Linked DNA regions of Homo sapiens: region 2 is linked to region 1. The links come from fine-mapping of genetic effects on gene expression. A gene starts in region 1. The other region holds a variant in brackets. All regions are shown on one strand. Distances are between the middles of the regions. Region 1 holds the start of TTC39B (tetratricopeptide repeat domain 39B). Region 2 overlaps TTC39B (tetratricopeptide repeat domain 39B).

Region 1 (4,256 bases):
TGTTGGGATTACAGGCATGAGCCACTGCACCTGGAGCTTTTTTATTGAGTACCTGCACTGATGAATAAGATAGTGCCTCCTTCTAAGCAATTTACAGATTAGTGGGAACCCAGGAGGCGGAGGTTGCAGTGAGCCAAGATCGAGCCATTGCACTCCAGCCTGGGAGATGAGAGTGAAACTGTCTCTCAAAAAAAAAAAGTATTATTATTTAGAAATTGGGTCTTGCTATGTTGCTCAGGCTAGTCTCGAACTCCTAAACTCAAGTTAGCCTCCTTCCTCAGTCTCCCAGTGCTGTAATCCCATACAGGCGTGAGCCACCACACCTAGCCTGTGTCAGCTAGTTTTTTTAAAACAGCTTTACTAAGATATAATTTACATAATCATAAGTTCCACCTATTGTAAGTACACAATTCAAGGATTTTTAGACAATTCAGAGAGTTGAGCAACCATCACACGATCTAACCCATTTTTTCAATGTTTCTGCTGTAGAAACCATTTTATTATTCTAGTACAAAAGTACATGCCAAGCCATTAAAATTGTACAGCAAGTATTAAGGATGCAAAGTGACTCACTGAAAATGTATGTAATGGACTTGCACAGACAACTGCTCTACTGACACAGAAAGAAAGAGAGGGAGGGTGGCTAGAGCCAGTACAGTACAAAGCAATGGTTATCAGCTAGGCCCTAGAGTTAGACTGCTGGGGTTCAGATGCTGGCATCCCTACTTACTTAACTGCTGTCTGGCCTCAGGCATATTACTTGAACTCTCTGAGCCTCAGTTTACTCATCTGAAAGAGAACAGCACCCTACTTTATGGGGTTATGAAGAATAAATGAAATACTATATGCAAGAGGTTCAGTAGAGTCCTGGCACATAGTAAGGACTCAAGAACTATTAGCTGTTTTTACAGTTATCACTGGATGACTATTAAATAGCCTTTCATGAGCCAGACATGGAAGACCACATGCTCTAATTAAATTTATATGAAATTCTAGAGAAGGCAAATCGATGTTGATAGCAGATCAGTGATTGACAGAGGCTAGGGAGCGGAGGTAGGAAATTGACAGCAAAGGGTCACAGAAAACTTTTCAGGATGTTCTATATTATGACTGGGATGCTTTGTAAACACTTGTCACTGAATCACACATTTAACTTGGTGCATTTTTCTGTATGTAAAGTAAATCTGACCTCTCTCCCCCAAACTCTTAAAGATCTAGCTTTTAATTTTCCAGTTATTTTACATGTCAGAAGCAAGGTTCAGTTTCTAAACTCAGCCAACAAATATCTGTTGAGCACCTACGATGTGCAAGACACTGTTCTGGGTGTTGGGGATACAGTCTTGAAGAGGACAGATAGCATCCTACCCCCATGGAGTTTATAGTTCAAGCACGAATTATACACCTATGTTTGGAGTTACAAAATACAGGATGCTATGGGGAGAATACACTGTCCGGGTAGGGGGAAGTAGAGGAGTTCCAATATGTATAAATCTCTGTCCCGCGTTTTTTTCTATTTTTTGAACACAGAAGCAAGCAGAGTCCTTCCACCTACAGTCCAGGTGGGTGGTGTGTCAGAGGCCTCTCGGGGACCAGTGACCGTGACCCAAGGCTGCCCTCAGGCCACACCATCTGCGAGATGCGGTGGCCACCTGGCGAGGGAAAAGGACTGGCACCGGACCAAAGACCAGGTGGATGCTTCCACGGACCCCAGGTGGGGCGCTGCTTTGACCTTGGCTTCGTCATGCCCGCGCTCTCTAGCTTCTTTCCAGGTGTGCCCAGCCACCGCAGAGAACAGGCGGCAGGAAAGCTTAGGAAACCCTCCCAGAGGGCGTGCCAGACCGGGAAACTTTATCTGGGAGGTGACTCCACCCACTTGGGCGGGGCTGCCGCCCGCTGGGGGCCGGGCAAGTGGCCCGGCCAGCGGCGCGGCGTCCGGGGAGGAAATGGATGCTGTGCTGGCCTGCCGGCTCCGGGGGCGGGGAAATCGAGTAGCTGCACTCAGGCCCCGCCCGAGACCCGGAGGGAGCGCCGGGCCGTCCCCTTTTGCCCTCCTTTGCGCTGGGCTGAGCCCAGAGCCGAGAGCAGGAGTCGGCTCTGAGTTCCCTGCTTGGTTTTTGGGTGGCAGCAGCCAGAGGAGGAATATGGCGCTCTTAGGCAGCCGAGCGGAGCTGGAAGCGGACGAGGTACGATCCGATGGGGATTGCGGGCCCGGCCCCTGAAGCCCTGGACAGGAGTCCGGGAGAGAAGAGTGAGCCCGGCTAGGACGGCCGAGGCCCCGCCCCCTTGGTCCCCTCTCTGGGGTGGGCTGGCGGGCGCCGGGTGGGGGCGCCCGGCCTTGGTAGGTCTGTCCCCGCTGGAGCTAGGAGGGTCCCTGCGGCGCGCGGAGCGGACGCAGTGCCGAGGTTCGGAGCGCCGGCCCCGCGAGTCGTGGGGATGGAGGACCCACGTCCTGCCAGCACTTGGATGGGCGTGAGGGCGCGGGACCATAGGACCCGCAGCTCTGAGCTGTTCCGGGCCGGCCCAGCGACGCCTGGGCTTTACGAAGTCTGACCCTGAAGTCCTGGCACTGGCTCTCTGGGTGTTCGTGGAATCATCCCTCGACCTGGGAATCTCACCTTCTATGGAAGTTTCCTGGTGGCAGAACCGAAAGGCTTACGATTGATGAAAAGAGGGGGCAGCCTGAGGAACAATGAGTAGAGGGGTACCTGCCGCGACAGCAGGGCAGGGCTGCCAGGGGCTGGGGCTGGAGGGCTAGAGCCGCAGCCCAGGCTGTGGTGCTTCCCTCTCCCTCCACGGGGCCGGGACACTTCCCCTAGCAGGTCCTCAGAGTCGGTGGTGGCCGGAGGGAAACCACTTTGAGAACCGACTCCGGCCTCCTTTGGTTTCAACTGTGTTTGAGTAATTAGCCACTCCTTCAGTCGTGGCGCGCCCGGGCCTGAGCACCCAGGGGCTAGCGCGCCGGACCTGTTGATTTATTGACTATTCATTTCAGCACCTGGCAACTCCAGAGACAGCGCTCTCCCTGCTCTTGAAGTTGAGACCGAGGCTCCAGCAGCAGCCAGCACCCACAGCTGCTGTTCCTGCCATCTTACCTGACTTGAATTGTGCGAGTCGCTGCCTTTAGAAGGCTTTGGTTTCAAATGATGCAATAGTGGACGATCTGGAGGAGGCGGTTAAGTTTCCCGTCCATCTCTTTAGTGCCAGGAATCTCCTGACAAGGAAGACTATACTTTAAATGTGCTCCGTAAAATAAACAAAAAACAAAAACTGAACTACAGCTCCTCTGCATGACAGAGAGACAAGAGGGCAAGCCGGGCTGTCCAGACCCTTGCTTACAGCCTGTCCCTTGCATTGAGGATCCCAAGACTGTAGAATGAAATATTTGAATCCCGATCTGTTTGTAGGAGATTTGCTGTGCTTAGAACTATGTAATTCTCTAGATTAGGGCATTGTTGAGGCGGTGCTATTATTAATTAACACTGGGATAATAGGTGTAAACTGGGACTGTTTCGGAGATACTTTGACAAATGGTCACCCCAGCTATGCTCACTGCCTACTAGATGAACGGTTGAGATGCATTAGCCGATGAGGAGGGAAGTTAGGTTTCTGTGGGTGAAACTCTGGGTGGAAGTTAGGTTTCAGAGTAGCAGAGAGCCTGGCACACAGATACTTGGTAAATAAATATTTGTTGAATGAATGAAAGACTGCAGAAAAGATGTTGCTTAATAACAACTCAGTTTTTGCCATATCATTCATTTATTTTTCTTCATTCATTAACTATTAGGCTTCTGTTACATGCTAGGTACTGTACTAGTCCTAGTTGATGAGCAAAATACAAATTGAATTCTTTGTTCATGCCAAATTTACTTTTGTCCCTCACAGTTTACCACTTCCATTGCTATAAACTGAGCAAGCGTTTATTGAGCATTTACTTTGGGCTCAAACTTGGTAGGTGCCTTAGAGAAGGCATAGTTTTGCCTCTTTATGGTTCTCAGTCTGATTAGGGAGATATGACCTGGGTACAAGAACTCTAAAAAGGAGCTCAAGTAAATGTAAGCAAGTAAGAAGTAGTGTGTTGTAGACTGGATACCCTTGATTTATTTGTAGAAAGTCCCTTACCGTAAATGGGCTTGAAGAACTCTAACCTCGAGTTCATAAGACCCTGCTCTTCAATTTTACTGGGTGCGCAAATAGCTTATTTCAGCTAGGAAGCTTTTCACGTATTTAAGAAGAGTCTGATAGTCTTTATTTGATAT
Region 2 (4,531 bases), 140 kb after region 1:
CATTTGATTAAAGGTGGTGACGTTTTGGAGAGACTGATTTTGAATGTACTTAAGTCTATTATAATAACAAAATTCAAAACCCCTGTGTATCTAAAGGGAAGGAAGTGTCATATTTTAGGAATTTTTCTTAACCTTAGCAATGAGAGCCTAAAATACATACATGGATTATTTTTCTTCTAGGAAGTAAATTTCCTGCTGCTTTAAATGATATGTAAAATATCAATAATTTTTACACTTAAGATGTTGGTAAGACCTAGTTTTCTAATCTCTCTAGCACTGTGATGTCTCCTTGTAGATAATCTGGACCTTGCTTAGTCCTTTAGTTGGGAAACAGAATCAGGGCATAGAGCAGAAGAGAGCTTGACACTCCATATGGTCCTGGTTCTGCTACCCATTAGCGATTAGTGAGGAGACCTTTAGGGAGTCCACTGTGCCCTGTGTGTCACCACATTTTCTTCTGTGAAATCAAGATTAAAGAACAGATGACTTTCAAGGTCTTTTTCAGTTTTATAACTGTGAGTCTATGTATTAGGTATTTATTTTCAACAAATGACTTTAAAATGTCGAATGCAAACCATTCCCACTTGGAGTGTTTTATTTTTCAATCATCATCATTGCCCCCAACTCCCCACATGTATGTGTTGTGGCATCCAGAGTGAGAAAAGACAATTTATGAGTTGATGAATCTGGGCCTTATTTCTATTTCCATTTTGAAGAATAACTTGTCATAGAAGCCTCTGCAGTTTAACAGAAGGAGCCACATATTGGGAGTCACGAGTTCATCTCTGTGGGTTAATAGTTCCATGACACGGAGTACGTAGCTCAGCTTTTCAGGGGTTCAGTTGCCCCACTATGGATAGCGGTGTGGTATTTGGTACTTGTGAGGGCTCAATTAGATAAAACATATGATAGCTTTTTGTAAACTGTAAAAGGCTATACAAAAGTATGAATTATTATAATAATTATGGTTTTTTATGTCTGGATTACAGTATCAACACAAAAGTATTGGCTGATACTGTGGTTTGTGTTGTAAAATGAAAGAAGTGTAGAAATTCAAATACCTTACTGTGTATTCATGTGTTTGATGTTGACAGTAGGCTACCCAGGTTATATGAACCTGCTCCTGCCGTTCCCTGCCACATGGACCTGTATCAAGCAGTGTGTGGCTTGTTTTCTTCAAGGTACTGATTCTTGACCAACACTGAGGATGTATATCCAATGAAAGATAGATATCAATGGCGGTAGATATCAATGTGTTATTAGTAATACAACTTTAGGTACAGACAAAATAGAAAATAAAATTAACTGTCATTATAATTAGTAGTGGAAAATACATTAAAAATTATTTGTGTATAGCTTTGGAAAAAAGTTTTCCAAAAAAAGCTTTTTGGAAAAAAGCTCTTAGAAGAGCTTTGGTAACATTATTTTTGAAAGCGCACACTCACATTGTGACTGTGGGTATACTGAGCATATATTCTTACATTGTTACTGTGAGAAGCTGCAAGTCAGTGCTGCAAGTCAGTAACAAATTCTCTTTTGGGGATAAAATGAAACAGTTTTAAGCTTAGAGTGGCCATTTTTATTTTAACTCTGCATTACTAAACAAATATAAAAGAAATTCATCTCCATTTAAAAATCTTTTTTGTTATTTATATTTTGTTTTATTTTTGTTTCCTATTCTTTATGCAGTTACCTGATACTATGGACAGTATATCCAGTGGATCTTTTAGTACTGTAATATCAAAATGCTACAAATATTTATGTTTCCTGCTATGTTCAAGATATTGTAGTGGCACCAACTTCTTGGGCATCAGCTAATATTGCATTTTGGAGTCATTAGGGTGTTCTGTGAAGAATGAATACTGAAGTGACAGTTTTATCTAGTTTTTTGAGGGGCATTTATGATGGGGTTGGGTTGCCATTGTGTCTGACAGTGCAATTCATGTAGTTCCTGGCATAATTGCCTTTTTTTTTTCCTTAATGGAGAGGCAGGGTTCTGATTGGTGCTGTATAAATTTAAGTAACTTTGTGCTTTGTAGGAATGGTGACAAGGAAGGCATGATTTCCCCCTGACAAGGAATGAAAGGTGAACTGTATCAGCTCTTATCTGGACATATATGTTAATGTTTTCTATGCTCCCTGATACAAGAAGTTTCCAAGTTATATAGGAAAATTAAGTCCATTGATCCTGTCTTTATCCTCAGAGGGCAGAAATGAGACAAGTGGATAAAGGCTGTAGGAAGCTGAATTCCAGATTAATCAGTGCCGAGGAAGATTTTTCATTATCGGAAAACCCAACAGTCTAAAATCAATAACCAGTTCTTCTGCAAAGGGGTGAGTTTAAGCAGGGCTAATGTGACTGTCATTTCTGCCTGTCCTGCAAGCTTAGACTAGTTGAACTTTGAGGTCACTCTATGATTCTTTTATTAGGGCTTCAAATCAGCAGGGAGTGTGTAAAGAAAAAATGCTCCCCCCCTACCATTTCAAATAAAAGTGAATGTTTTCTCTTTCAAAGCTACTATTAGAGGTAGTTGTGATAGACACTAACAATCCCCGGTGTTAATACTTTCCACTCCTTTTATTTTATTTTAATTTAATATTATTTTATTGAGACAGAGTCTCGCTCTGTCACCCAGGCTGGAGTGCAGTGGCGTAATCTCTGCTCACTGCAAGCTCCTCCTCCCAGGTTCACGCCATTCTCCTGCCTCAGCCTCCCGAGTAGCTGGGACTACAGGCGCCCGCCACCAC[G/A]CCTGGCTAATTTTTTGTATTTTGAGTAGAGACGGGGTTTCACCGTGTTAGCCAGGATGGTCTCGATCTCCTGAACTCGTGATCCACTCCTTTTTAAAGTGAGTCTAGTCTGTTGATCTTCATAAATAGGAGGGTTTTCCTCCAGCTTGGACATTAAAAATAATTTTTAAAAAGATCTTTGTGGCTAACTGGAAAATCTTCTGGAATTATCTAATGCTTCATTCATTTCCCTCCATTTCTGTTTTTTTTTTTTGTATTTATACTCTGCATATTTAGAAATCTTAAATTCAAATACATTTAGTTAAAATGAGTTGACGAAGACTCCAGTGATGTTTTAATACCCTAAGATTTTGTGATTCCTTGGGCCTGGAATGGATCTTAGAAAATTACCTTGCCCTCATGAGCCTGTAAACCGTGTTGTTTCCCCTCAGTCTTGCTCTGTCCAGTACAGTAGCCCCTCGCCACACATGGCTGCGGAGCACCCGGAATGGCTTACAGCACATGTGGGAATGGTGCTGAATGCTGAGGAAGCATTCACTCATACGTGCTGCACTTCTTAAAGGCCTCCCAATAGCCTGCTTTGCGGAGTTCTGGCTTTTACTTGCTGTCTACTATGATCACCTGATTTGTGCTTCACATACATATCTGTGAAGTTTGCTTTTTCTATTTAAAGTGCCCTTAAACTTTCATTTGATCGTGTTTATCTGCAGATGGTCAGTGTCATTGGCATATTTGAACATTATTCTGCCCTCCCTCCGCCAAACTCCTTATGTACTAGATTAAGAAATTTTATTTTTGAGATGATGATTTTAATTTGATTTTACAGACATTCTTTTTTACAAAGTACAGTTGTTAGAGTTATAGAAGAGTGATTCACATCTTTGAGAAGATAGATTTCATGATTAATATATATATTTTTTGAGACAGAGTTTCGCTCTTGTTGCCCAGGCTGGAGTGCAATTGCACGATCTAGGCTCACTGCAACCTCTGCCTCCCAGGTTCAAGCAATTCTCCTGCCTCAGCCTCCCAAGTAGCTGGGATTACAGGCATGTGCCACCATGCCCAGCTAATTTTGTATTTTTAGTAGAGATGGGGTTTCTCCATGTTGGTCAGTCTGGTCTCGAACTCCCAACTTCAGGTGATCTGGCCGCCTTGGCCTCCCAAAGTGCTGGGATTACAGGCGTGAGCCACCATGCCTGGCCCAATATTTTCTAAGATAAAATTATTCTGAGAAATCTAGTGGAATCTTTTCCATTGCTTTGTTATTAATGTTTCAACACTGACTTTCTCAACTAGGCCAGTATTACTATTTAAAGGTTTTTAGAGGCTGGCAATGGTGGCTCACGCCTGTAATCCTAAAACTTTGGGAAGCCAAAGTTGGGGGGCGTCACTTGGGACCAGGGGTTTGAGGCCAGCCTGGGCAATACAGTGAGAACCTGTCTTTACAAAAAAAAAAAAAAAAAAAAAAATGAGCCGTGCATGGTGGAGTGCACTTGTAGTCCTAGCTACTAGGGAGACTTAGGTGGGATAATTGCTTGATCCCAGGAGTTTGAGGCTACAGTGAGCTAAGATCATGCCACTGCACTCCACCCCAGGTGACAGAGTGAGACCCTGTCTCAAAAAAAAAAAAAAAAAAAAAAAAAATATATATATATATATATATATATATATATATATATATATATATATAAAATAAAGGTTTGTGGACACATGTTACCCATTTAGAGAATAATTTATTTTTGAATGTGTATGATACCTAAGTGATATGCATATATATAATTAA

What was found. PIP is the estimated chance that this variant, and not a neighbour inherited with it, causes the effect.
Region 2: its variant is the best candidate, but not a certain one, in a credible set for the expression of TTC39B in whole blood (INTERVAL, PIP 0.56).

Annotation. Positions count from the first base shown.
Region 1 is chr9:15,305,011-15,309,266 of GRCh38, reverse strand. It overlaps TTC39B (tetratricopeptide repeat domain 39B), which reads left to right and starts at 2,051. Exons shown (of 20, transcript NM_152574.3): 1 at 2,051-2,183. The coding sequence starts at 2,142. RefSeq lists silencers at 1,797-2,136, 2,167-2,486 and enhancers at 1,724-2,286, 2,850-3,413.
Region 2 is chr9:15,166,890-15,171,420 of GRCh38, reverse strand. TTC39B (tetratricopeptide repeat domain 39B) reads left to right here. Exons shown (of 20, transcript NM_152574.3): 20 at 1-4,531. Among named protein-coding and RNA genes, the nearest start is that of TTC39B, 140 kb to the left of the region's middle. The variant G/A (reference allele first, on the strand shown) is at 2,749.